4 linked regions of the Homo sapiens genome follow. The protein of the gene in region 2 purifies or fractionates together with the protein of the main gene of each other region. This does not show direct contact. Each region holds a gene or a part of one and is shown on either strand. Other genes may lie near its edges.

Region 1 (7,023 bases), on a different chromosome or scaffold from region 2:
GACCACCCAAGACGGTGCGTGGCCACACAGTCACCAAGAACATGCTCTGCATGGCAGCATCCAGCGGCTGCGGCAAGTGTGAGCAGCAGACGGGCCCGGGCAACTCTAGTCTCCGAGCCCGGGCACCTCTAGTCTCCGGGCCCGGGGCACCTCAAGTCTCCGGGCCCGGGGCACCTCTAGTCTCCGGGCCCGGGGCACCTCTAGTCTCCGGGCCCGGGGCACCTCAAGTCTCCGGGCCCGGGGCACCTCTAGTCTCCGGGCCCGGGGCACCTCAAGTCTCCGGGCCCGGGGCACCTCTAGTCTCCGGGCCCGGGGCACCTCTAGTCTCCGGGCCCGGGGCACCTCTAGTCTCCGGGCCCGGGGCACCTCTAGTCTCCGGGCCCGGGGCACCTCAAGTCTCCGGGCCCGGGGCACCTCTAGTCTCCGGGCCCGGGGCACCTCTAGTCTCCGGGCCCGGGGCACCTCTAGTCTCCGGGCCCGGGGCACCTCTAGTCTCCGGGCCCGGGGCATCTCTAGTCTCTGGGCCCGGGGCACCTCTAGGGCCTGTGCCTGCACCACCTTCGGGGCTGTGTGTCTGTCTCTTCTCTGTGGCCCAGGGAAGCTCTGCGCTGCTTCAGAGCCCCACGTGCAGCCCACACCGCAGACTTATCTATTCCCAGGGCCTGTGCGCGGCCTCAGCTGCAGGACGGGAGCAGGCTGCCCCCTTGTGGTGCCCAAGCACCGCGCTGGCCCAGCGGGCACAGGCCGGAGGCAGTCAGCCCCTCCAGCCACGAACCCTGCCCCATACCTGGTCCAGGTCATAGGAACAGGAGTCCACGCGCTGGCGCAGAACGTTCCACTTCTTCCCCCGGAACAGACGCCACAGTGAGGACAGGCCATGGATCTTCAGGCAGTACAGCCTACAGGACGCAGTGCTGTCGGGCCCGGCCCCGCCCCGCCCCGCCCCGCCCCCGCCCCACTCGAACGCCCGCCCAGCCGGAGCCTCTGCACCTCCCAGGGGGCGGTGGGGAGGGGGAAGCCCACGCCCACCTGGCTCCATAGACGTAAAAGCAGTAGATGTGGAAGGTGAGGAGGGCGATAATGTCCGAGAGGAGGGACAGGGCCACCGTCAGGCCCAGGCAGGCCGAGAGGCCCACGTGCCAAAGGATGTGCTCCACGAAGGGGGACATGAGGTGGATGTAGCCTGGCAGGGTGGGGTAGGCCCTCAGGAGGCGCTCAGACCCCAGCCCTCGGCCCAGCACAACCCTCACACACACAGGACATGAGGTGCGTGTAGCCTGGCAGGGTGGGGTCAGCCCTCGGGAGGTGCCCAGGCCCCAGCCCTCAGCTGAGCACAGCAGGCCTCACACACACAGGACGCTGGGGAGCAGAGTTGGGGGCACAGGGGGCGGGGTCTGGCTGGGTCCCTACCCTCTTCAGCAAGCTCTGGGGTCCCTGGGGCCCCCGCCTGCCCTGCACTCACTGATCCACAGGTGGATGTGGTAGAGGAAGAAGCGGCCCAGCACCTGGTCCAGTGCACGGTTCATCTTGAGCCCGGCGGGAGCACCCATCAGCCACTGCAGCAGATGCTGGAGCTCCTCGGCCACGTGCTGCAGGGACACAGGGGCCACGCTGGGGCGGGGGCAGCCAGGCTCAGCACCTGCATCTCCCCAGGCTCTTTCGTGATGGGCTCCCACCTTGGCCAGCCTTCCCTCCTCCAGGGTCTACCGCGTCCTAGCGTGGACAGCACACGGGCTCCCCTTCACAGATGGCTCCGGGATTGGGGTCTGAGGAGGCTGGTCTGGAGGCCTCTCTCTGCAGGCCTGGGTGACATGGCCGGGCCCACAGGGCATCCGCGTGGCCCCCTGCCTGCACCCACCTCTACCATCTTCCTCCCCTCTCACTACCTCGGCCACAGGACCCACTGGAGCCCTCGGCCCCAAACACGTGGACGCACTGAGGCCTGGCAGACCCTGATTCGGCTCCAGCCCTGCAGGGAAGCCCACAGCTGACACAGTCCCCTCCAGAGGCCCCACCCCATCGCAGAGGCTGGGGGCTGCCCGGGATGACCACAGGTGAGCGAGACAGTGCCAAGCCCATCAGGGCCACAGCGACCAGGCAGGAGGACAGGTCCCCAGAGGGAGGATGGCGTCAAGTTGAGGGCACAGGCACCCCCAAGAGCAAACAGGGAAGCAGGGTCTTGGCCGCCCAGGAAGAAACTCAGCATCCAGAGGCTGTGCCCCAGCGGGCAGACCCCAAGGGAGCCTCAGCCTCCCCACTAAGGAGACAGTGAGTGACACCTTGGCCCCCACTTGCCCATTGCGCAGGCCCCTTCCAAGCCTGGGCCAAGGCCTCAGCCACAGCAGGACTGGCAAGAAGGAGAAAAGAACACTTTTTTTTTTTTTTTTTTCTGAGACGGAGTCTTGTTTTGTCGCCCAGGCTGGAGTGCAGTGGTGAGATCTCGGCTCACTGCAAGCTCTGCCTCCCGGGTTCACGCCATTCTCTTGCCTCAGCCTCCCAATTAGCTGGGACTACAGGTGCCCACCACCATACCTGGCTAATTTTTTGTATTTTTAGTAGAGACGGGATTTCACTGTGTTAGCCAGGATGGTCTCGATCTCCTGACCTCATGATCCGCCCGCCTTGGCCTCCCAAAGTGCTGGGATTACAGGCATGAGCCACCACCCCCGGCTGAGAAAAGAACATTCTTTATAAATAGAGCTTATTTAATATTTAAAGGATAAGAGCTTGGCAGCAGGAAGAGACTTTCATTTTTAAATTAAATATTTATATTTCTGAGCACTTTTGCAAAAGGGAGGTCTAGGACAAAGTAGGCCGGTGGCAGGTGCGGACGACCACAGGCAAAGCTGCCGAGCCCCTTCCCCAGCCCCGCCCCTCCTTCCTTCTGGGCTGGAGCTCCCTGCACCCCCACAGCCACACAGACGTGCCTGATGCTGCCCCCAGAGGCCTGGCCTGGCCACAAGCAGGCCCAGTGCACACCTGCAGCCCACACAAGACCCACCCAGTCAGGCCTCAAGGAGGCCTCCACAGAGGCCCGAGGGTGGGCCAAAGAGTCAGGTACCACCCCCAGCAGGAAGACAAGCTCCTAATGGAAGAGACGGGGCTTTGGTGCTGAGGGAGGAAGACAGAGAAGCTGAAGGCCCAGAGGCAGCATGGAAATGCACTAGATCTGCAGAGGAGGGGGCTGCACCCGGCTGGAAACGGGGCACAGACCATGCAGGGAAGGTGGGAGATGGGAGACAAGCTGTGCCTCTGGCTCTCAGCACAGGAGTTACAGAATCAGCACAGGGGCAGGGCAGGAAGTCCCAGCTGGGCTGCACATGGGCCTCCCTGGACAGGAAAGGTTTCATGACCCTGGCTCTGCAGAGGGCCCCAGAGAGCCAGGAGGGCAACGCTGATCTCAGGGACCACAAGGGAGATACCAGGACGCTGGGCCCACAGGGAGAGGCGGGCTCCCCAGAGCCTCAGCCCGGCTGGCTCCTGCACACAGCCCCTTCAGAAGGAAAGGGGGGTGTACCTGCGAGGCCTGCCCTGCCCAGGCCCCAGCGCCCCTGGAGTTCCTGCTTCTGGTTCAGGGGAGGGCCGTGTCTCCAGAGCATGGAGAAGGTAGAACTGGCTTTGTGGGGCGGTGGCTCTGGCCCGGGAAGGCTCTGCTGCCCAGGAGGGGTCCCCACGCCCACCCGGGACACCGGGCTCCACCCCAGTCCACTCACGTCAGCCACAGGAACGAGGGCGTCGGCCAGATGCCCGATGCGGCTTCTCCCGTGGAGCCAGGACAGCAGCATGAGGCCCAGGGCCACGTCCAGCAGCACAGAGGCCACCGTGTTGGCCTTCCTGGAAGGGAGGTCCGGCCCGGCCGGCATGAGGGTGGCCAGCACAGCCTGGGGCCGCAGGAGGAGGCCTGCCTGGCCGGAGGGGTCAGCGTGGTGCAGAGGGGGATGGAGAAGGGGCCAGAGGGCACGCACCCAGCCCTGCAGAGACCAGGGCAGGCCCACACCTCATCAGCTGGGCAGGGTTCTCCGCCTTCCGTGTACTGAAGATTAGCGTGAGGTGCTCCAGCCGGTGCCGGAGCTGTTCGCACGTGGAGAGTTTGCTCCCGAGGAAGGACAGGGGCCAGAGCTTGAACACTCTGCGTGGGAGTGGAGAGGAGTGATGTGTCCCTCTCCAGATCCTCCTCCCACCGTCCCCCACTGTGCAGGGGACCACAAACACCCAGGCCACACTCCTGAGCTCAGCAGGACAGGGGGCAGGTGGGAGGGGCCCTCGGTGGCCCAGGTGGTGGTAGGCAGCGCTCAACGCGCCCACCTCACAGTGCACGTGACTAACACGGAGCCTGGCCTCCTCGCAGGTGCTGACCCCGGGCCACCTGGTCACCACATGCTCCCAGAGCCGGTGCCAAGAAGCGCCTGCCAGCCAGCAGCAACTCCCACGGGCCCAGGGCCTCGCCCCGCCGACAGGGCCCAGAAAGCTGCCCGGGGTCTCCTGGGCTGGCCTAGCTTCTCACCCCAGGCTTCCAGAGTATGCACCCCCGGGTCTAAGGCAGGGGGCAACTGCAGGTGACCCCTAGCTGCTCCCCATGGGGCACCTCCGCCAGGCAGATGAGGTCCCCTGTGGAAGGGGGCCCTCTGTTCTCAGCCACAGCTCGGGGCTACCCCCGTGCCCCTCAGGGCCCTTGGGCTTCAACTGACCCTTGGCCAGCAGCACCTGTGATTGTGGAGAGAAGCAGGGCCTGTAGACCACTCCCCCAGGCACACGGGGCCAGCAAGTGGATGACACCCCCACAGCCCATGAGCGCTGCAGTGTCCAGAGGCCTGCTGGGGGCACAGGCAGGGCTACAGGGAGGCCAGCGGGCCTGTGTGCCCTCAGGAGCACCCCCAGGCAGCAGTAGTCATGTCTGTGCTCACCTTCTGATTTCTCTTTCAGGGACCTAAGCCACTGAGGTTCACCCTCTACACCTTCTGGGAGGGCCCCTGGCAATCCCTGAGGCTGCCCAGAGACCTGGCTCTACCCCAGGGGTGAGGGACACCCTCTGAGAGGCGAGGGTTGGGAGAGCAGGATGGGGCCAAAGCCCGGGCTGCAGGAGTGGGAGGGGGCCCGGGCCCAGGAAGAGCGCATCTGGGCCTCTGTGCCCACTGCAGACAAAGGGATGGGCCAGCACTCATGGGACCCCACTCTTTGCCACCTGCCTGTCCCGGGACACCTACCGGCAGGCACTGACAGCTGAGACCAGCGACAGCAGGCTGGCCAACAGCAGGCAAATGGGTCCCGAGGCTCGCCTGGCCAGCTCCGCGAGGATGCTGGCCTCCACGCCCTCCGACTGCCAGTGGCTCAGCCGCACGGGGCCCTCATCAAAGCGGTCACTGCGGAAGAGCACCTCACTGCGTGCTACCGTGTCGAAGACGGCAGCCAGGCCCCCCGTGCTGGCAGTGGTGGCTCCAGCCTGGCGGTCGGGCAGGACGGTGGGCAGGTGTAGCTGTGACAGCAACACCTGGCGCTGGTCATAGAAGATGAGCATGACCTGGTCCTCACCAGGGGCACCGGGGGCAGTGGGCGCTTGCCGGTGGGTGGCCTCGCAGCTCCAGAACGTGCCGCCTCTCTCCCGGCACAGCCGCAGCCAGGGCTCATGGGGGAAGACAGCACCCAGGCTCTCCAGGAAGCGGCCCAGGCTCTCCTCGGGCTCCTGCCGGCAGTGGCACCAGGTGCCCAGCACGGCCACGCCCACCTGGCTGGCCTGCCGCACCTGGGCCAGGAGCTGCTTGACCTGGATGGGGATGAAGGGAAAGTGCAGGACCGCCAGGACCACGGCGCTGCTCTGCTCCGGCACCCACCGTCCCACCAGCAGCCCGCTGTCCGTCGAGACGCAGCACGTGGGGAAGAAGGCCTTGAGCACCATGCCGGGAGGCTGGAAGAGAAGAGGAGAGGCTCGGCTCAGAGCTGCTGCTGCCCCCCCACCGTGGGCTGCGGGATGTTGCACAGACGGCCTGACAGGTGCAGCCACAGGGCCCCAGGTCGGGGCACCTCAGCTTCAAGTTCGGTGGTGGACGCCGTAGGGCTCCTTGGCTGCCGCCTCGCGTGGGCCATGCTTCTCCAAGGGGCAGCCAGAGTGCTGGCCCCAAGTCCACCCCAGGCCCAGCTCAGCCCCACCCGCACGAGGCAGGACGCACATGCAGCCACCAGGCCTGCCCTCCCATTTCCAGGCCGGCCCAGGGCACGGCCTCCTCGGCACCACCTGACGCGGCTGTGGGGCCGAACCGAACTCCAGGCTTCTTAGTTTTAAGAAACCTGATTAGAGAGGTGTGCTTAAAGGTGTAGCACGAGGAGAACTGTACAATCTCATTAGCAAGGTCACGCCAATTGAAACCTTGACAAACCATGATTCACGTATTAAGCAAGAATAAAGATGAAAATGTAAAATGATGTGCTGCTGGGCTGTGGAAACTACCTCGTGCGCACGGCGGGCAGCCCCCCAGAAGGTCCCTGCCTCCCACAAGCCCCTCCCTGGGGGCAGGAAGGACCTGCCTCGTTGCTCAGGGCACACAGGGCTTCGGCCTCCACTCTGACCCCCGCCCACGGTGGCACCCGGCAGTGCCTGGCCCTCCCTGACATCCCCACAGCCACCCCAGGGCAGGGCTCCCTCAGGGAGCATTTTCTCTCCAGGATATATTTCTCCAACGACATGGGTGCCTAGAAACGGGGAGAGAGAGGCTTACAGGTCCCGGAGGTGTGGAGAAACTGCATCCTGCACTCTCAGGCTGAGGGACACCAGCCTTCCAAGGTGGCTGTTGAGTAGGAAGCCACCTGAGCTACCGCGGTTCCCAGGCCCTGGGCCTCTCCTCCCCCTTTCTCACAGGCCCCTGCGGAGCCATGCAGCCAGCTGGGGCTCCTTCTCCACTGATGCCTTCCCTGGCGGGGCCCCACAGGGCAGGAGGACTCCCTAGCGGTGGGGGCACTACTGGCCGGCTGGCTGGGCCGCTCGCCTTCCTCAGACACAGAAAGCCCCATCTCGCCTGCACGAAGAGTGGA
Region 2 (7,023 bases):
CTGCTCCTCACTGACCTTCAGGGCTGCAGGTGCAGCAGTGCCAGCGCCCACTAAAGATTCCTGCCTGCACCCGTCATGGCAAAGCCACGTGAATTACAGTTTGGACACCAGCACTGAGAGTTTCCCAGATTAGAAAACTCAGTGGAATTCTAGGACTCAGAATTCTTAGAACACTCTTATGGGGCTTAAGCAAAACAAAAACTTTGCTGTATAGTCAGCCCTCTGTGTCCACGTGCTCTGCATCCTCAGATTCAACCAACTGTGGATGAAAATATTCAGAAAAAAGACCCAAGAATAACAATACAATAAAAATACAAATAAAATATGACATCAATTTCCATTGTGTAGGTATCATAAGTAATCTAGAGGTGCTTTAAAGTATATAGGAAGATGTGCTAGGTTATATGCACATACCATCCCGTTTTGTATCAGAGACTTGAGCATCCGAGGATTCTGGTCTGGGGGGCAGGGGAGGATCATGGAACCACTGCCCCAAAGATACCGAGGGGTGACTGTAATCTTTAGGCCATGAAAAACTAACTCCATCTATTCCCAGAATACACTCTTCATATTTTCAGCTTCTCTGGGATCCTCAGCATGAGGAAAATCGGTGGTTTTGTCTTCACCCTTCATTCCCATCAGGTGAAATCGGGGAACTACGTCCTGTTCTGTGCCTCAGCCAGCCAGCCCCCTTCTTACCACTGTTATCTTATACTTCTGTTTCTTATTTATTTTATTCTTCAGGACATTGTTACCATAGGAATGCTGTCCTTGCCTTGTGGCTGGCTATGTACAGCCATAGGATTGCCTACAATGTTTGGTTATATTATTTGTGGTGTACTTCTGGGACCTTCAGGACTAAATAGTATTAAGGTAAGAACAAAATTGGATTGTTTTGGTATCTGTTTAACAGAATATAAAAAGAGAATTCATGAAGACTAAAAAGTATTGAATGTGATTAATGCAGATACCAGCTTCGTATAAACCATTTCAAAGATGTCCTTTCAGGTGTCACGGGAAGTCTCTGAACCCTCAGGAAGTCGCTGTGCCTGTTAGTGAAGGGGCGGTGTTACTGGAGACAACGCCCCTGCTCGTTTCCATTAGTTTTAAGGACTCCATTTCCAGTAACGTGCTGGACCAGGTTATTCAGACCACCTTTCACGTGCTGAATGTAACCAAAGTGTTGCATTAACCGTTTTTGTTGTTGTTGTTGTTGTTGTTTTTGAGACAGAGTCTCGCACTGTCACCCGGGCTGGAGTGCAATGGTGCAATCTTGGCTCACTGCAACCTCCGCCTCCCGGGTTCACATGATTCTCCTGCTTCAGCCTCTTGAGTAGCTGGGATTACAGGTGCACACCACCACACCTGGCTAATTTTTTGTATTTTTAGTAGAGACGGGGTTTCACTATGTTAGTCAGACTGGTCTTGAACTCCTGACCTCATAATCCGCCCGCCTCGGCCTCCAAAAGTGCTGAGATTACAGGCATGAGCCACCCTGCCTGGCCCATTAACTGTTTTTAAGCATCCCATTCACAACACATGGAAAAGCTGATTAGCCCCAGTCGAGGCAGTGGGCAGTGGGGCTGTTTGCTGGGCCCCGTCACACTGATGGCACTTCTGACAGGGAGGAAAGGTTCCCAAGCTTCCAGCTGTCTCCCCACAACACTCACGGTGCGAGCAGCGTGGAGAACGGGTGCCAGAGTGGGTGCCATGAGTCCCACTGGAGGGAGGCGTGCCAGGGGGTGGGACGGGGAGGAGTGCAGCCTGCTCCCTCCAAGCCTCTTTCCCTCTGCTGCTGGTTGAGCCTGGGACTAGGCCCAGGAGCCCCAGGGCTTTCTCCAGATCGCAGGGCGGCAGGAGGGGTCTGAGGAGCTCGAGCCCCAGCTGGTGAAGAGGAGCGCGCCCAGCACCCTGGGCCTGGGGAGCGGCTGGCCGGCAGAGGAGCCGCAAGCCCACGTGTGGGGGCTCCCAGGACAGGGCTCGCCTTGGCAGAATGGCCTCTGGGAAGAACGGCTGTTTCAATGTAGTTTTTGGAGTAGGTCTTTTTCACGTGATTCAAGTATAAAACACCAGAGGTGAAAAATCACTTCCTGCCCTTTGCAAATAAAAGCAAATACAAATTTCCTTCCTTCTTTTTCTTAATAGCAAAGGTGCTCATAAACCAACAAATAAGGTGAAGTGGCTGGGTAACACATACAACTGGATGCTGTAAAAATTATAATTCTTAATAAATCAGCTAAACCATGGAAAATAATGTAATTATAAATAGACCAAGATAAAAATCAAAGCACATACTAGCCAAAAGTGAGAAGTGGTTAATCGAAGTACACTGTGTGATTGTGTGTGTGTGTGTGTGTGTGTGTGTGTGTGTGTGTGTATGTGTGTTTTGGATACTTCCACCGGGCATACTAGGGCATGATTGTTGAGTTAAGTATACTTAATATGTTAAACATGTACAATTATATGGTTTTTCTTTTGTGTTTTTCAGTCTATTGTGCAAGTGGAGACATTAGGAGAATTTGGGGTGTTTTTTACTCTTTTTCTTGTTGGCTTAGAATTTTCTCCAGAAAAGCTAAGAAAGGTAAGGACCTCATCAACCTGTTACTGCAGCTAAGGAGCTTCACATCATGTGGTTTTGGTTCATACACTTTTAACACTTGTTGATGAATTCACTATCAAATGTTTTTAGAATAGAATATGATATTTCGGTTTGATGTTATTTTTGGGACAAATTCAGAAAGATAAAAAATATCAGGTTTGAAAGCGTAGAAATTCAGTGAAGAATTGGAATTTGCCTTCACATGGCTAACTTCAGGAAGGGTCTGGAAAGTAATGTGTGTGAACTTTAATAGATGGCTCCCTCTAAGGTGCGAAACTGTTAGAGGGTCAGATGTCATAGAGCTTGCATATTCAGTGTGTTACCCTAGAAAAAACTTTGTCAATTGGAAGTGAGTTAATTAAAAGACACTTTGTTTTTCCAGACACCGCACAAAAGAGGAAAGTAGCTGATTAAAAGCCAGGGTGGGGAGAGGTAAAATGAACACTGTTCATAACAAAAACACCCTGTGAATTAAGATCAGATACCACTTTGCCTGCAGTGCTAGCTGGAAAACTAGCATCGACTTAGCAAAAGTTTTTAAGTGACTGTCAGATGTAACAGGCATTCTTGAACCAGATTCGTGAGAATCACAACTGTACACCCTTTCTGTATTTTTGGGGTTTTTTTTCCACGAAAGACTTGGTCATTTTAAACAAAGTGACTTAATTTACAGTGTCTGGTTTGCCTAATCATTCAGCTCTCTCATGTAGTATTCCTTCTTTTTTTAATTTAAAATTTTTTTATTTCAATAGGTTGTTGGGAACAGGTGGTGTTTGGTTACATGCGTAGGTTCTTTAGTGGTGATCTGTGAGATTTTGGTGCACCTGTCACCAGAGCAGTGTACACTGCTCCCGATGTGTAGTCTTTTATCCCTCGCCACCCACCACCCTTTGCCCCAAGTCCGCAGAGTCCAGTGTGTCATTCTTACACATTTGTGTCCTCATAGCTTAGCTCCCGCTTAGGAGTGAGATCATACGACGTTTGATTTTCCATTCCTGAGTTACTGCACTTAGAATAATGGTCTCCAGTTCCATCCAGGTTGCTACAAATACCCCTTTTTTGTTCCTTTTTATGGCTGAGTAGTATTCCATGGTATATAAATACCACATTTTCTATTGATGGGCATTTGGGCTGGTTCCATATTTTTGCAACTGCAAATCGTGCTGCTCTAGACATGTGCATGCAAGTCTCTTTTTCGTATAATGACTTATTTTCCCCTGGCAGTGGGGTTGCTGGATCAAATGGTAGAGCTACTTTTAGTTCTCTGAGCAACCTCCACACTGTTTTCCTTAGTGGTTGTGCTAGTTTACGCTCCCACCAGCAGTGCAGAAGTGTTCCCTGTTCCCCACATCCCTGCCAACATCTATTCTTTTCATTTTTTGGTTACGGCCATTCTTGGAGGAGTAAGGTATTGCATTGTGGTTTTGATTTGCATTTTCCTGATCATTAGTGATGTTCAGCATTTTTTTATGTCTGTTGGCCATTTGTATATCTTCTTTAGAGAATTGTCTATTTATATCCTTAGCCCACTTTTGGATGGGGTTGTTTGTTTTTTTCTTGCTGACTTTTTTGAGTTCTTTGTAGATTCTGGATATTAGTCCTTTGTCGGATGTATAGATTGTGGAGATTTTCTCCAGCTCTTTGGATTTGTACACTCTTTTTGGAGAGCTGTCTAGCAATTTGACCTAAAAGCCTTAAAATGTACATATGCCTTGACCTGGTAGTTCTTCTAGGTCTCTCTCCAAAGGAAAGAATCAAACATAAGTTTTTAAAAAATTTACCCACAAAAGGTTTCACCTCCTCATTGTAAATTTTTAAGAAACAGTGGAACCAGTCCTGAGCATCTAACGGTCAGTTCAGCTGCGGCGTGACTACCATGGAGTGTTAGGTAGCCACTGCAAAGTAACAAGAGCATCAGCAACAGAGCAAAATATCGGTTGGAAAGCTAAATGTGGGGAAAAAAGGAGCATGTAACATGACCGCGGCAATGTAAAAGAAGCACCAATACATGGGGGAAAAATGGGAAAGAAGCGTTCCGGGTAGCCATGATGACTTCTGGTTTCTTCTCCATATTTTCCAAATTTTCTATAATAAGCAGTCAATACTTTGTCATTAGGAGGAAGAATAAACTTTTCTTTTAAAGGCTTGTGTTTACTTTCAGAAGTCAACTCTGATCTCACTGGCATGTTTTTCTTTATACTCTCTTCCCATTTGCTTCCTCAGTTCATCCTCTTACCTAGAACTTTTTGTTTTCTTTATCTTTCTGTTTTTCCACTAAAAGCTCCGTTTTTCCATCTTCCCATTACTCTCCCTTTCCTGTGTACACTCCTGAAGACAGGCATCCTCATAAGGTGTTCTGAATTAACTTTAGGGTGTTCTCCAGGTACTTTGCATCTTTTTATATTTCTTGTAAATTGTTAATTTCTAAGCTCCATGATTAAAGAGAATTCACCACTCTCCTGGGTCCTAATGAAAAGCTGTGTCATCCTTGCCGTTAATCCTGTGGAGGAGACTGTTGTGGGTGGGGAGGGTAAGGGAGCGTGGGCCGCGTGGCTGCCTGGCCTGTGGAGGAAGGAGCCTGTTACGGGTGGGGAGGGTAAGGGGGCGTGGGCCACGTGGCTGCCTGGCCTGTGGAGGAAGGAGCCTGTTATGGGTGGGGAGGGTAAGGGGGAGTGGGCCGCGTGCTGCCTGGCCTGTGGAGGAAGAGGCTGTTATGGGTGGGGAGGGTAAGGGGGTGTCAGCCAGTGGCTGCCTGGCCTGTGGAGGAAGAAGCTGTTATGGGTGGGGAGGGTAAGGGGGAGTGGGCCGCGTGGCTGCCTGGCCTGTGGAGGAGCCTGTTATAGGGGGTTTGGGGATGTGGCTGTCCAGTGCCCTGTCTCACCAGTGTCCCACGAGACTCCGTAAAAACACAAGGCCTCCATTCCATGGTGCAGCATGGGCGTGTGTGTGTGAGTGTGTGTGTGTGTGTGTGTGTAATTTAGAGAGGTTTGCAGCAAAGGGCAATTTAGGGCCAACCCGTAGGGGAGGTGGGAGGGATGAAGTTCTGGCTGTGCAGCAGAGCGTCAACAAGGCACTGATCTGCCTGGACCTGTGTTCCTCTCCTGTACAGTGAGGAATCTAGAAGGCTCCAGTGTCTTCTGGCTCTGCATTTTCATAGTTTGTATTTTTCTCCACTATAGTATTCACAGTTAAATAAAAAATAATGTTGTATAACGTAAGGTGGAGGTAATTGTGAGCAGCGTGAGCATGTGCTTCATCAGGCCTGCTGTCGTCTAATGGTGCTTCCGAGGGTTTGCACCCGGTTCTGAAGTGCCTGCTTGGTGGTGTAGACTCGGGGGCTTGGCAAGAGGCTGGCGTTCTCTGTTAGTAAGTTGTGCTCAGCTGCCCTGCGTGGTGACAGAGTCAGATGCGTGGAAGGACACTGGATTGGGACTCAGGAGACGTCTGTGAAACTCCTTGCTGACATCTGATTGAGTGGGGCTGGGCAGGGTTCCTTCTGTGTCTGGGATGTGCGGGTGTCTTGGCGCTGACGAGGGTCTCCCGGTCCCAACTCCTCTCACCCGTTGCCGAGCCTGTGCTGCTGTCCCCGGAGGGAGCCGTCGGAGTCTGGCCCCACCCTGGTTCATGGAGACGGCATCCCGCTGTTTTTCTAAGTCTGTGGACTCGGATTGCAGATCTGTATCCACCCAGAAAACGACATTATTAAGCAATGTGTTTATTTTCCCCTTTTTATTACTCAGGTATAAATATCTGGCCAAGCTTTAGAATAACCTGAGATACCCGGAGTGACTTTTCTGAACTGATGAGCCTCCTGCCACGTGGGTTAGCTTGCACACCACACTTATGGGTGGGAAAATAATTTCCTTGGGTTTTTGAAATGTTAATACTTGCCAGAAGGCCCCTCTTAGGACTTCTAAAGATATGATTAGAAACTACTTGGAACACTGAAGCCCCGAAACTGCGCCGTGCATAGTGCTGAGGAAAGCTGCCCACTCTGTTCTCGCCCTTGTAGCTGCTCGCTCCTCTAGCCTGACTTCAACTGTTCCTTAAACTTGATCTCTTAAGAGTCTGTCAGTTTCTGCCTCTCTCCAGATTGTTTCTCAAGTCATTGTGGTTGGGAGTTTCGTTTGCTTCTGTCTTGTATCTTCTCTGTTCTAACTACAAATACCTGTTGAGCACCTGTGGTGTTCCAGGCCCTTCAGGGGCTGCTGGGTGAGGCAGGTATAACGTACGTGTGTGCCTACCCTGCGGCTTGTATTTTGGGATTTCAGGAGAATGTGTCTTGGCGCCGGGGGTGCCAAGGGGCCCTCCCGTCAGCGCCTCCTGACCTTCAGCCCACAGGCAGCCATCTGGGGGGCTTGGTAACCCACAGATTCTGACCTGGGCGCACCTGCAGATGGGGTTTCTGATGCATGCACGGGTCC
Region 3 (7,113 bases), on a different chromosome or scaffold from region 2:
ACAACTGTGAATAAGACATGGTCCTTGTCTTGAGGAGTTGAATCCCTTGTGTTAGGGAAGCAGGAGCCTAGGAGAGCCAGAGTGGCACCACTTTAAAAATCAACTCCATCTTGAGACTAACAAGGCACATTCCTTTTCGGTCACAACCCATAATCATAACACGTTTATAGTTGAGGAAACAGCCTAAAGATACCTACTACAAGGACACACTCCTACAAAAGCAGAAAGCCCACATGTCCCAATACCCATAACAATCTATGTTTTCAAGATAATTACAGTTAAGCTTTGATGTATTCACACACTAGAATGTCAAGGATAGTTATCTTTAAATCAATAGAATAATTTGTAATGCTGTCTGCTCACCGACATGTAGACACAGCTTAGCTTTTTACATAGATAAGACCTCTGTATAAGGAAAACTTACAGACAAGACGTGCCTCCTCTTACTCTCTGGGGATGCCCTACTTTGTAATGGAGTAGCTTTTAATAAACTCTCTTCTCACTGCGCTCTGCTACTAGCCTTGAATTCCTTTTTGCATGAGATCTCAGAACCCTCTCTTGAGCTCTTTTTCGACAACTTGGAAAAGGCATTGTGAGTAGATAATTATAGTACAAATTGGTGAGTGACTGCTACAACAGAGGTGGAATTATGAAAACTTGAGGAAAAAAAAGATGATTAATCTGAGGTCTCAAAGCATGGGTAGTTGAGGAAAGCTGGGCGGGACTTTTTCTTGCATTGAGAATGGCACTTAAAACACAAATCTAGCCTGGTGTGCCAAACTAGGCTAACAGTGAAAACTCAAAAGCTTAAGCAAAAAAGAGATCAGATGTGCTTGTTTGTTTCAAGATAACTAGGTCTTTGTGTGGGGAGAAAAATCAAGTCACACATTCCTAAATTCCTCACATACATTTTCTGGGCTTGGATTCAGACTCTGCTAGTCACTAGCTGTGATCACTTCCCTGTGCATGAGTTTTCTTGTCTGTAAAATGGGGCTAAAAAAATAGTATCTTAGCTGGGTGTGGTGGCTCACGCCTGTAATCCTGGCACTTGGGGAGGCCGAGGCGGGCGGATTGCCTCAGCTCAGGAGTTGGAGACCAGCCTGGCCAACACAGTGAAACCCCATCTCTACTAAAATACAAAAATTAGCCGGGCGTAGCAGCCTGCGCCTGTAGTCCCAGCTACTCGGGAGGCTGAGGCAGGAGAATCGCTTGATCCCCGGGAGGCGGAGGTTGCAGTGAGCCGAGATCAGGCCACGGCATTCCAGCCTGGGTGAAAGAGCGAGACTCCATCTCCAAAAAAAAAAAAAAAAAAAAAAAGTAGTATCTCCCTAAAAGTGTTGTCAGGAAGCCAAAACGAGCTAATATATGAAAAGTATTTAGAATGCTACCCGTACTATATGTGTGAGCTCTTGTACGAAAGTATTTCTCATGTACCTACTTGATAGCATTATGGCTTTCTGCCAGTAAGCAGCTGATTTTGTCTCACATTTCATTGCTTTCCCTTCAGGTCTCAATGACAGATTTGTTTTTGAATAAATGAACCATGGCAAGATTCAAAAATACTTAAGCAATGCTTATATAACATTTAATTCAGTTCAGAAGATATAGGCATTCAGAGTGTGCTCTGCGGTAGGTATTACAAGTGCTCTTTTTGCCCCAAATTCAGAAGTGGATCTTGAACTGCCTAAAGGATTCAGACCTGACATTGTAAGAATGACTTTGTGAAGATAAAAACATATGAAGAAAGTCGCTTTCCAGAGATTAAAAAATTATCTACTTAATAAGAAAAATTCCTTTTATGATAATCTTGAGTACAGAGTTAGCAGGTAACAGCCATCCTGGTGATAACTGTATTCCCATCTGTAAGAGTCAGTTGGCCGGGCTTGGTGGTTCATGCCTGTAATCCTAGCACTTTGGAAGGCTCAGGCGGGAGGATCACTTGAGGTCAGGAGTTTGAGACCAGCCTCGCCAACATGGTGAAACACTGTCTCTACTAAAAATACAAAAATTAGCCGGCATGGTGGCACGTGCCTCTAGTCCCAGCTACCCGGGAGGCTGAGGCTTGAGAATCGCTTGAAGCTAGGAGGCAGAGGTTGCAGTGAGCTGAGATTGCGCCACTGCACTCCAGCCTGGGCCACAGAGCGAGACTCTGTCACAAAAATTTAAAAATAATAAAAGAGTCAGCTGCTCCTCTATTATTTTAACAAAACAGAACTCACAGATACCAATAAGCAGTTTATTGAAGAATTCTCTTCAGGAAATGATTTCCCATACATTGAACTGATTCTCTTTTCTGCAGTCCTTTTAAATTTGATGTCAGTTCAGACAGCCAAACTTACTGGTAACAGTGAGGAATATTGTAGAAGAAAGAATAAAAGTATTGGAAAGCAAGGCAGTTATTGATAATTATGCATACTGGGGAACCACAAGATTTGGAGACCAGGACTTTGACTTTTGGTTTCATCATTACGATTTAATCACAGCTGTGATTTAGTCAAGCCATTTAACCTCTTTAATTTTCATTTTCCTCATTTTAAAAATCAAAGTTGTTTTGAGGGTCAAGTGAACGCCTGTGCGGGTGTTTTACCAAATAATTATTTTATTAGCAGATAAAACATAATATTGGGGGTGAAAAGTTATAAGAGGTGCCATGTTTTTTTAAACCCTGCCAAGTATCTGATACAGAATTGCAAAGGATGTTCGAGTTCATGAAGAAGTTGCCTTCTCCCCACAGAGGCAGAGTGACTTGTAACATCTGTAAAAGGTCACAGTCTGGTTAGCGGTAGCCAGAATCTGGGTCTCCTAACTCTAGTTGCCTAGTCTTGCTTTTATGCGCCAGTGTCGTTCATCATTCATTAAATACATGTTATGGAGGATAAATTAAGGGCAGAGCATTGTGCTAGGTGCTGTGGGTGATCTTATCAGACACAGATCTTTAGGGAATCTAGAGATTAAAAAGTATGAATAAAGTTATGTGACTTGGTGAAGGTCAATGGCGATTTGGTGGAAGAGGTGACAATGCAGCCACGCTCCAAAAGGCAGAAGGGATTTGCACCTATTATCATAGGGGTTAAAGAAGGAAGTCCAGAGTTAAGAAACAGGATGAGCAAAGACACTGAGGTCTTAAGCCTCAATAAATTTTAGGTAAGTTTCATCGTAGTAGAATAAGGGCTGTCTCACTCCGAGACTTTTGCACACTTTTGCTCCCTCGGACTGCTTGTCCTGGACACCGTGTAACCTCCCCCTGGGCGCCTCACCAGACTTCTCCAGGCCAAGGGAAGGACCACCTCTTGGGTTTCCATGGCTCCCTCTCTAACCACCCCCTTCTCAGGACACCTATGACACGACTATTTGACTTCTTTGCCTCCGAGCCCCCACCCCCAACGTTTCTGGTCTTGAGAGAACGGGCTGGGCGCATCCGTGTATCTCTAGCCTGAGCACCTGGAGCGTCCTCTCCTTTTCTTCTTAAGGCAAAAGCCTACTCATTCTTCCAGCTTCAGCTGGAATGTCAGGCTCTCCACGCACTCATGGCCCTCCCTTCCGCCCTCTCCACATACACAGGGCAGGGAAGCTGTGTCTGATTCCTCTTTCGGACTCCGGGGACTGACATATCATAAGCGCTCAATAAATGCTAGCGGAATGAATGGAAACGTTCCGACCCGAGGCAGCGGATCACTCCAGGCTTCTCCTCAAAGCGAGCACACCTCAGTCCAGGGAGGGCGCAGGAGCTGGGGCTGCTGCGGTGAACCAACCCCAACCCCGACCCCGACGCCGATCCCGGCCCCAGAGCGCCTCCTAGGCGACCCCTGGCCCCACCCACGCCGGAGCCGGCCCGCGCCCATCCCCACGCCCCAACCCGCACCACGCAACATCGCCCTAGCGCCTTTCGGGGCGTCGCCGCGCAGGTTGCGCCGCCTCCGATTGGCCAAACGCGGCATAGCGCCATCTCGGCCTACCGCGCGGTGCGCGCCCTCATTGGCCGGCGGCGGCAGGAGCAGGGGTAGGGGGCGGGGCAGCACGCGGGGCGCGCGGTATGGGCGGACTCGCGCCTGAGCCCCGCCCCCGGTCCCTCGTCTGGGCCGAGCCCGCCCAGCTGGCTGAGACGCGTGGAGCCTGGCGGCGAGTGGGGGCGTGCGACGGTTACTCTGGTTACTGGGGCCGCGCCGCGCTGGCGAGAGCCGCCGCCCGCGAGGGATGCTGGTGAGGAAGCCGTCGGGAGCCGCCGCCGCCATCTGAGGGAGGTACCCTGGAAACCACCTTTTATCGGTGGGGAAGTGCAGTCGCGGTGGGCGGCTCTGGGGGCCAGCGAAACGGGAGGCCTCTAAATCTTTAGGTTGGGGCTGCATTGCCCTGGAGCCGCACTCTTGAGTCCGAGGCCATCTTTTGTTGGAGAAGGCGTCGGCGTTGGCGTTTTCCCGAGGTTGGGCTGTACAGTGTCTCCGTCCGCGGAAAAAGAAGCCTCTGAACCCGCGCCGGCCCGCAGCCCCCGTGCCTTCCGGCCGCTGCTCGCCGTCGCCAGAGGCTAGGCCACGTTTCCCCCAGTGCCGAGGTGTTTCTGTGACCCTCCCTCCACTCCCATTCCCTTCTGAAAGGGCACCTGCTCTTGGTGAGAAAAGAAATTATAGCACGAAGAGCCAGTATCAGAAGAGTATCCATCACCCGCAGCAACCGCTCAGGGAACACCATCAAAAAAGAAAAAAAGGGAATATCTGGATTTCCTGGGCGAGGAGGAGCGAGTCTGCTCGGGAGCTGTTCCAGCAGGCGATTTTTAAATACTGCTTTCTACGCCCTATACAACTTGGCTTCACATACTTTTACACTAACTTTATATGATTTTTAAAAACTGGTCTGATCGGACTTCTCGTCCTGGGACACTGTTTACTGGAGTCTGGCCGGCTCTCCGTGCTCCTCTTGGTACCTCATTTTGGGGAGAACCTTAAACCCACTCGAGCAGATAATCTCCGCCTTGACCGGTGCCACCAAAGAAGCCTTGGAACCATGTGGACTTTTCTGGGCATTGCCACTTTCACCTATTTTTATAAGAAGTTCGGGGACTTCATCACTTTGGCCAACAGGGAGGTCCTGTTGTGCGTGCTGGTGTTCCTCTCGCTGGGCCTGGTGCTCTCCTACCGCTGTCGCCACCGAAACGGGGGTCTCCTCGGGCGCCAGCAGAGCGGCTCCCAGTTCGCCCTCTTCTCGGATATTCTCTCAGGCCTGCCTTTCATTGGCTTCTTCTGGGCCAAATCCCCCCCTGAATCAGAAAATAAGGAGCAGCTCGAGGCCAGGAGGGTAGGTTGATTTCAAAGCGGGCAGATGAATGTCTTATTTAGGAGTAGGATTGGGTTCACTCAAATATAAGTTTTATTTGAATTGCAAAAGGCGGCAGGTTAGATGCTTGTATACATTCTCATGTATTTTTTATTTTAAACTCTGCTGTGCCTTGGTTACATCTTTGACCTTCTTAAGAATGAGTGAAGACATTTGTTTCATTTAGCATTGGTTGAGCCTCAGATGGAGGTTGGATATTTGATTATGAAAGATGGAACGAAATGTTAGAATTTCATTTTGAAGGAGAAGAACAACCACTTTCCATGATGAAAAAGTTTTTAAAAAGTTCTTGGGTAAGGATTGGATTTGTGCCTGAGGAAGAAAGAAACGTGCTGCGGGTAAGTCCACTGCTTGTAAGAAGTGACAGCTGACTGGGGAAAGTGACAGAACAGTTTGAAAAGCAGGCAGAAGGAGAATGCTCAACATTTTGAGGCATTGGGCTCAAAGTTCTCCTCCCCCGAATATTGGAGCATTGAGTAAATGCTTGTAGTAATGTCCTAACATAAAGGCCAGGTCTTCAAATAAGGGTGTAGTTGGGATTCCTGCAAAGGGAGCAGAGGCGGCCACTGGGAGAAGATGAGGGGGAAGAGTTTAGGCCAGATCATTTAGGGCATGTTGGCAATGAGTGTTCGGGCTTTTTCCCAAGAGTTCTCCCAAGAACACTGGAGGATTTTAAGTATGGGAGTAACTTTATTCGGTGTTTACTTTTTAAAAAATTTTTGTTTTTTGAGACAAAGTCTCGCTCTGTCGCCCGGGCTGGAATGCAGTGGCGTGATCTCGGCTCACTGCAACCTCCGCCTCCCTGGTTCAAGCGATTCTCGTGCCTCACTCAGCTTCCCAAGGAGCTGGGATTACAGGTGCACGCCACCACTCCTGGCTAATTTTTTTTTTTTGTATTTTTGTGGAGACAGGGTTTCACCATGTTGGCCAGGCTGGTCTCGAACTCCTGACCTTAAGTGATCCGCCTGCCTCAGCCTCCCAAAGTGCTGAGATTACAGACGTGAGCCACGGCGCCTGGCCTGACTTTTACCTTTTAAAAAGAACATTGCAGTTGCTGTATGGAGAATGGGTTGTAGGCGTACAAGAATGGAAGCAGGGCTATCAGGCAAGAGACTATAGCAGTAAACGCCCACTTGCTTTTTAAATTTTTGCGCCACCATTTCTGGATGTGAGATCTTTGGCAAATTGCTTAATTTCTGTGAGAATCTGTTACCTCTTCCATTAGACGGGAATGGCACCACCCTTGCTGGTAGTTAATACCTAGTCTATAACCGCCTGATAATAGTAGCTGTTAATATTAGCCTAGGGGTAATATACATCTCTTAGGGTGAGCTTTATGAGTAGCGCTGAGTTCAGTGACATGGTGCATGGGTTTGAGGAATGGGAAAGGAGGGAGAGAGAATCCTTAATGTTTAATTTGAACTTTTTTGTATTGTGGTCTGAAATAATTTCCCTTAAGGTCACTGAGCTCTAGTTCAGGTGGCTGGAATGCTGTTCCTGTTTTCATGCTGTGTAGAGAAATTTTGGAGTAGGAAAATTGGGTTACCAGCAATCAATATTGGTTCCATTTTGTGAACGCCCCAGGCTTTCTCTTTATTTTTTTGTGAACCAGGGAGTTGTTAGATTGTGATCTATTGACTACTAAGTTCCCATTAGTGCTTACTCTACTGATCAGGCTCTGCAAGGCCTGTTTTCCTCCAGAGCTCTCCTTTCAGGGTGTGTGTGTGTGTGTGTGTGTGTGTGTGTGTGTGTGTGTATATAAAACAGGAAAAACTTATGAAGAAG
Region 4 (7,023 bases), on a different chromosome or scaffold from region 2:
TTAGTAGAGATGGGGTTTCACCATGTTGGCCAGGCTTGTCTTGAACTCCTGACCTCGTGATCCGCCTGCCTTGGCCTCCCAAAGTGCTGGGATTACAAGCGTGAGCCACTGCGCCCAGCCGTATTTTATTTTATAGATTACAAAACATTCTGAGAAGGGGGTCCACAGGCTTCACTAAACTGCCAAAGAGATCTGTGGCACAAGAAGTTTGAGACCCCTACTGATAACACAGAAGAGTTCCGGGCCTGGAGGTTAACCTACCGGCATAATCCCAGTCAGAATCCAACGCATGGGAGGCGTGTTCACCTGCACTCAGCAGGTGTGTCTGTTCTGACTGTCCCACCTCCCCCGTTCACGAGCACCTTCAAATCCTCACCATCTCTAGGAGCACCAGCCAGGTTGTGCTGTGTGTCTGAGACGTGTCACCTTTTTTTTTTTTTTTTTGAGACGGAGTCTCACACTGTTGCCCAGGCTGGAGTGTAGTGCGTGATCTCAGCTCACTGCAACCTTCGCCTCTTGGGTTCAAGCAATTCTCTGCCTCAGCCTCCCAAATAGCTGGGATTGCAGGTGCCCGCCACCATGCCCGGCTAATTGTTTTGTGTTTTTAGTAGAGACGGGGTTTCACCATCTTGGCCAGGTTGGTATTGAACTCCTGACCTCGTGATCCACCCGCCTCGGTCTCTCAAAGTGCTAGGATTACAGGTGTGAGCCACTGCACCTGGCGTCACCTTCTGTCCTGAAAGTAAATTTGTTTTAACCATTCACTTCTCCATACAGAAGTTATAAAGGTTCATGTATTCAAACATGACATTATTCTCCTTCATGCCTTTCCTTACAGGAAGATAATAGAAATATTCTCCTCTGCTTTCCTCCGGTATTCTTATGGTTTTACTTGTGTACAGTAGGAGATAGACTTCTGTGTTGATTTTTCCACTTACATAGCAAATTTTCTCATTACCATTTATTGGGCAATCCCCAGTATTTTGAAATATTCTCATTTCCATCTGTACAGGCAATTATCTGCACTCTTTGTTCTTTTGCTGGATTATTTTCTTTTTTTTGAGATGGAGTCTCACTCTCGCCCAGGCTGGAGTGTGGTGGCACAATATCGGCTCACTGCAACCTCCGCCTCTCGGGTTCAAGTGATTTTCATGTCTCAGCCTCCAGAGTAGCTGGGACAACAGGCGCCCACCACCACGCCTGGCTAATTTTTGTATTTTTAGTAGCAATGGGGTTCCTCTGTGTTGGCCAGGCTGGTCTTGAACTCCTGGCCTCAAGTGATATGCCCACCTTGGCATTACAGGCATGAGCCACTGTACCCAGCTTCTCCCCCTTACTTTAAACAAGAAAATATTTAAGCATTTCTTTAAAAATTTTTTTTAGTTTGTATATATTTAGAGGGTACGAGTGCAGATTTCTTATGTGACTGTGCTGTGGTGAAGTCTGAGCTTTTACTTCCCATCACCCAAGTAGTCAGTGGTGATTTTCAACCCTCTTCTCCCCGCCACCTTTTCAAGTCTCTGGTGTCTGTTATTTCCCTCTGTTGGTCCATGTATACCCACTGTTTAGCCACCACTTATGAGTGAGAACATCGGCTGAGGCAGGAAGGTCACTTGAACCCAGGATGTCGAGACCAGCCTGGGCAACAGAGTGAGACCCCTTCTCTACAAAAAAATTAAAAATCAAAGGGTTGTGGTGGCACATGGCTGTAGTCCCAGCTACTCAGGAGGCTGAGACGGAGGCTTGATGTCAGGAGGTTGAGGCCAAGTGAGCCGACATCACGCCACTGCACTCCAGCCAGCATGGGCAACAGAGTGAGATGGCGAGACCCTGTCTTGGAAAAAAAAAGTGAGAACATGCAGTGTTTGACTTTCCATTGGTGAGTTGTTTCACTTGGGATAATGGCCCCCGGTTCAATCGACGTCACTGCAAAAGACATGCTTTTTTTTTTTTTTTTTTTTTTGACACAGAGTCTCGCTCTTTCATCCAGGCTGGAGTGTAGTGGCGCAATCTCATCTCACTGCAACCTCCGCCCCCCAGGTTCAACGATTTTCCTGCCTCAGCCTCCCAAAGTGCTGAGATTACAGGCGTGAGCCACCGTGCGCGGCCGAGTTCATTCTTTTTTTTATAGCAGAGTAGTGTTCCGTGGTGTATTTATGGCACTTTTTCTTTATCCAGTCCTCTGTTGGGGGACGTTTAGGTTGATTCCACGTGTTTGCTGTTGTGGATAGCGCTGTGATAAACACACGAGGGCAGGGATTGTTTGATATGATTCCTTTTCCTTTGGGTAGAGGCCCAGTAGTGGGATTGCTGGATCGAATGGTGGTTCTATTTTCAGGTCTTTGAGAAATTTCCATACTGTTTTCCAGAAGGGCTGTACTAATTTGCATTCCCACCAGCAGTGTGTAAGTGTTCACTTTTCTCCACATTCTTGCCAGCATCTATTGTTTTTTGACCTTTTTTTTTTTTTTTTTGAGGCAGAGTTTCACTGTGTCAGCCAGGCTGGAGTGCAGTGGCACGATCTCGGCTCACCGCAACCTCCGCCTCCCGGGTTCAAGTGATTCTCCTGCCTCAGCCTCCTGAGTAGCTGGGATTACAGGCACACGCCACCATGCCCAACTAATTTTTGTATTTTTTTTTTTTGGTAGAGACAGGGTTTTCCCATGTTGGTCAGGCTGGTCTCAAACTGCTGACCTCGTGATCCGCCCACCTCAGCCTCCCAAAGTGCTTAAATTACGGTCATGAGCCACCGCGCCTGGCCACTTGACTTTTTAATAATAGCCATTCTGACTCGCGTGAGGTGGTATCTCCTTGTGGTTTTAATTTGCATTTCTCTGATGATTAGTGATGTTGAACATTTTTTCATATGTTTCTTGGCCACTTGTTTTTCTTCTTTTGAAAAATGTTTGTATCCGTTGCCCACTTTTTTAATGAGGTTATTCATTTCTTTCTTGTTGAGTTGTGTAAGTTCCTCACAGATTCTGGATAACAGTCCTTTGTAGGATGCATAATATGCATATATTTTTTCCCAGGCTGTAGACTGTCTGTTGATTGTTTCTTTTGCTGTGCAGAAGCTTTTTTGTTTAATGAAGTCCTGTTTGTCTGTTTTTGGTTTTGCTGTATTTGCTTTTGAGCACTTAGTCACAAATTCTTTGTCTTGGCGGACGTCCAGAGGAATTGCTCCTAGGATCTTTATGGTGTCAGGTCTTGGGTTCAGGTCTTGAATCCACCAGCTGACATTTAGAATGAACTTACTGGAGTCCTTTTTTTTTTTTTTTCATAACTCCTAACAAGTTTTGATTGGAAAGACATCGACTTTGGAGGTTATTTGGGAGGAATTGACAGCGTAGCTCTGAGTAGCAGTTCTGGTGCCCAGGGCCAGCCTTGGGAGTCACCTCCTCCAGTTGTCCGCAAGGAGTTTTGGGCCAGGACAGACATCACTGCCAGCATGAGCAGGCTGCTGTCTGGCATCTCACTGATCATTTTCCATCTTGCTGGTTGGCTCCTTAGAGCCGCAGTGCTGAGTACACATGTGTGCTGTCTGCGTACACACAGAACAAAATCCAATAGCAGTTTAAAAACCATCACGATAGGGTCTGGGTGCCCGGAATTCAGTTCTGATGGGCAGTGAGACTGTTCACCACCCGCCTTCCCTCCTTTGCAGGGGAAAGACGCCTCAGCCTTCGCCGCCAAGATGAGGGGGGGCTTCTGGCCGGCGCTGAGGATGAACTGGCGGGTGTGGACGCCACTACAGTTCATCAACATCAACTACGTCCCTCTGAAGGTGAGGGCCACGGGGCTCAGCCTCTGCTAACATTACTTTGTCAGCCTTTTCCTTCCTTCCTTCCTTCCTCTTTCCTCCCCCCCTCCCTCCCCTCTTCTTTTCTCTTCTCTTCTTTCTTTGGTAGTTTTCCGCTAGACTTAGTTTCATCCGTGTCTAGACTCCTCAACTACCCTTGGATTTTGCCCATGACCCTGAATCATTGCTAGTTCGGGATTCAGGAAGCAACAGAGAAGGGTGTCCCGAGTGGTCGTCTTTGCCTCTTCTGTTCGTTCAGCAAATTCTCATTAAAAGCCCCCATGCCAGGGATGCCTATGAGTTTTCTAGCCTTTGAAACATTCCCAGTCCCAGGAATGTACATGCAGGCAACTTGAATCTATGCTCCTGGGTTGCAGTCCTCAAACTTGGCCCAAATAAACTCTAGTTATACTTAGAAAAAGAAGGCCGTCACAGTAGCTCACACCTGTAATCCCATCACTATGGAAGGCTGAGGTGGGCAAATCACTTGAAGCCAGGAGTTCGAGACCAGCCTGGCCAACATAGCGAAACCCCATCTCTACTAAAAATACAAAAATTAGCCAGGCATGGTGGCAGGTGCCTGTAGTCCCAGCTACTCAGGTGGCTGAGGCACAAGAATCACTTGAATCCGGGAGACGGAGGTTGGAGTGAGCTGAGATTGTGCCACTGCACTCTAGCCTGGGCAACAGAGTAAGACCCTGTCTCAAAAAATAAATAAAATGTTAAAAAGAAACAAAGCATTCGTGGTCCCTGGGCTCATGAATTACAGCTGAGCCTGAAGGCAGGCACTGTGCGGCCATGGGTCCTGCCGCTGGCCTGGAAGAGCTGCCTCACCTGCAGCCATGGCAGCCACACCTGGGCAAGGGGTGGGCCCATCCAGGTGCAGAGTGAAGGCCTTCTGGGTAAGCTGAGCCTTTCCGCTATCCTGTGCATGAAGGAGCTGCTGTGGGGGCTGAGTCAAAGGTGTCAGATTGGGGCTGGGCTGGTGGTGTGGAGGCTGGAGCTCCAGGCTCTGCCACTGGGATCAACTGTCTTTATGCACAGCCAGGGTCCCCAGGACCACTCCCACACTGGGAGGATGGGGTGCAGCACCCCCTGCAGCATGGCAGGATACCCCCAGATGCTACAGGAGGAGGCCTGGCAGAGCCTGCAGGGGCCACGTGCTTCCCTCCCCCAGAAGGTATGCCGCCCATCAGGGTTTTTTACTGGTACTCTGGGCGGGCATCTCTGCCTGCTGCCCCAAAGCTCCAGACCCCTAGAAAGACAGCAGCTGTGTGGAGCCTGCATTGTTGGTGCAAACAGTCCAGGCACAGGGCAGGTGGCCCTTCTGGGAAAGGTGGGTGCCGTCCCAGCCCAGGCTGCTGCTAGGGAGGACCTGAACAGGCCTGCAGTGGCTGGACCTCAGCTGCAGAGGGCCTTCCTGCATTAGCACCGGCTCTGAGCCCTGCCCAGGAGGGAGGAAAGGACCAGGGTGACCCCCGAGGGAGAGGAGGGAGGCGGCCCAGTGTGTGCACACTGCACACACCACAAACACACCAAGAAGCAGCAGGAAACCAGGGGTGCACACAGACAGGACAAAGAGGCAGTTCACCCTTAGCCAAAGTTGCCAGGAGTTAAAGCAAAATAAAAAAATTTCCTTTGGCTTTAACAGTGGCCCTTCCCAGAGCAATTTCAGCTCTATGGGGCTGAAGCCAGATTGCCTTGAAGAGTGGGTGGGAATTATTTTAAAAATCACAAGTCTAGAACATGCTCTCAAAGTCTGTGGGGGCCAGGCATGGTGGCTCATGCCTGTAATCCCAGAACTTTGAGAGGCTGAGGCAGAAGGATCACTCAAAGCCAGGAGTTTGAGACCAGTCTGGGCAACATAGTGAGACCCCATCTCTATTTTATAAAAATGAATTTTAAAAAGTTTGAGAGAAGGTGAGAAGTGATGGAAGAAGGCTGGGTGGCAGAGGGGGTTCTGACACTCAGAGATGCGGCCATGGTGGGTGCAGACGTGAAGCTGCTTGTGGGATGGGCAAACACGCATGTCCAGAAAGAGCAGCTCTGCGGGGTCCCCTAAGGAGTCAGGGTGGATGTGAGCCCCCAGCACACTCACAGTGGTGCTTGGACAGAGGCCCTGCCCTCTGTGATGAGAGAGGAGAGAGAAAGTGACAGCTGAGCGGACAGGAGAGTGGGACATCCTGCCTCAAGCCCCCACGTGCCTCTCTGGAGGGCCAGGGGCTGGGACTGAGGGCAGAGGAAGTCAGGCGGGCATTTTAAGGGGATACAGGAGGGGCAAGTTTGGCCATGTGGAGGATGGGAGAGCATGCTGACTGCAGAGACAAAGACCTCTGGGCAGAGGGGGCTGGGGCTTGTCCAGCTGTGGTCAGCATCTGGGGAAGTGAGAAGGCAGGAAGGATAAAGGATTTTCCAGGGAGTGTGACTGAAGAACAGTAGGCTAAGGAAGCTACAGCCATGGGCCACTGGTTCTCGGGAATTTAGAGAAGGAAGCAGAGACAACTGAGAAGACAGACTGGCCGGGAACACGGAGGATCTGGGATGGAAGAGGGGAGAGCTGGGAAGCCGCGCCTCTGAGTAGCGTGGGGGCAGAGTCGCCATCCTAGGTGGGTGCAGGTGTATGCGGAAGCAGCATTCATTCAGCAAGCGTTTCCTGAGCAGTGACTGTGCGCCATGCTGCTAGACTCGGAGACGCGGCGATTAACCAGACACATGGGCTGCTACTTTCATAGCACCACGTGCCAGGGAGAGACTCAGCACTGGGCCAGAGGATTCTGGGGAAGGGTGAAGCTGCTGAGTCACCAAAGCAGGGCAGTGGGATGGTGATGGGTTAGAGGAGGGAAGGTCTGGGGCCCCTCCGCTGTTCGTCAGCTGTGTCCCCTGAGGAGGGTGCAGCCACCTGCATGATGGCTGGTCCTGGAGTGAGAGAGGCTGAACCAGGAGCTAAGGTGTGCGGTGAAGGGGGCAAAAGGAGAGTGACTTGGCTTTGGGATTCCTGGGCCGCTGTAGCCTGTGAACACTGTAACTAGGGGACCGTTTTTCTTCTCCACTCCTCTCTGCTAGGGGCCTAGCACAGCGTTTGGTACGAACAAAGGCTCAGTAAATGCAGTAATGGATGGGTGGTTGGACCAGCTGACCAACAAACGGGTAAACAAATGAACTGGGTGACTGAGGCTGGATAACTGGCCACGGCCTCCCGCTGACCGTGGCCTGTTGGACTGTTC

What was found.
Region 1: the proteins of SLC9D1 (region 2) and PIGQ purify together in Homo sapiens (affinity purification with mass spectrometry; 2 studies listed by BioGRID and IntAct, with this or other methods). This does not show direct contact.
Region 3: the proteins of SLC9D1 (region 2) and SQLE purify together in Homo sapiens (affinity purification with mass spectrometry; 2 studies listed by BioGRID and IntAct, with this or other methods). This does not show direct contact.
Region 4: the proteins of SLC9D1 (region 2) and PXMP2 purify together in Homo sapiens (affinity purification with mass spectrometry; 2 studies listed by BioGRID and IntAct, with this or other methods). This does not show direct contact.

Annotation. Positions count from the first base shown.
Region 1 is NC_000016.10:572,945-579,967, reverse strand, and holds part of PIGQ (phosphatidylinositol N-acetylglucosaminyltransferase subunit Q), read right to left. Parts: intron 5,903-7,023; 5' UTR 5,894-5,902; coding exon 5,205-5,893; intron 4,130-5,204; coding exon 3,998-4,129; intron 3,835-3,997; coding exon 3,714-3,834; intron 1,590-3,713; coding exon 1,463-1,589; intron 1,184-1,462; coding exon 1,030-1,183; intron 900-1,029; coding exon 788-899; intron 1-787. UniProt on the Homo sapiens protein: Part of the glycosylphosphatidylinositol-N-acetylglucosaminyltransferase (GPI-GnT) complex that catalyzes the transfer of N-acetylglucosamine from UDP-N-acetylglucosamine to phosphatidylinositol and participates in the first step of GPI biosynthesis.
Region 2 is NC_000013.11:113,501,008-113,508,030, forward strand, and holds part of SLC9D1 (transmembrane and coiled-coil domain-containing protein 3 isoform 1 precursor), read left to right. Parts: intron 1-744; coding exon 745-873; intron 874-2,488; coding exon 2,489-2,581; intron 2,582-7,023. UniProt on the Homo sapiens protein: Probable Na(+)/H(+) antiporter.
Region 3 is NC_000008.11:124,994,406-125,001,518, forward strand, and holds the start of SQLE (squalene monooxygenase), read left to right. Parts: upstream 1-4,099; 5' UTR 4,100-4,998; coding exon 4,999-5,289; exon of another isoform or gene 5,290-5,549; coding exon of another isoform or gene 5,550-5,666; intron 5,667-7,113. UniProt on the Homo sapiens protein: Catalyzes the stereospecific oxidation of squalene to (S)-2,3-epoxysqualene, and is considered to be a rate-limiting enzyme in steroid biosynthesis.
Region 4 is NC_000012.12:132,697,586-132,704,608, forward strand, and holds part of PXMP2 (peroxisomal membrane protein 2), read left to right. Parts: intron 1-3,664; coding exon 3,665-3,784; intron 3,785-7,023. UniProt on the Homo sapiens protein: Seems to be involved in pore-forming activity and may contribute to the unspecific permeability of the peroxisomal membrane.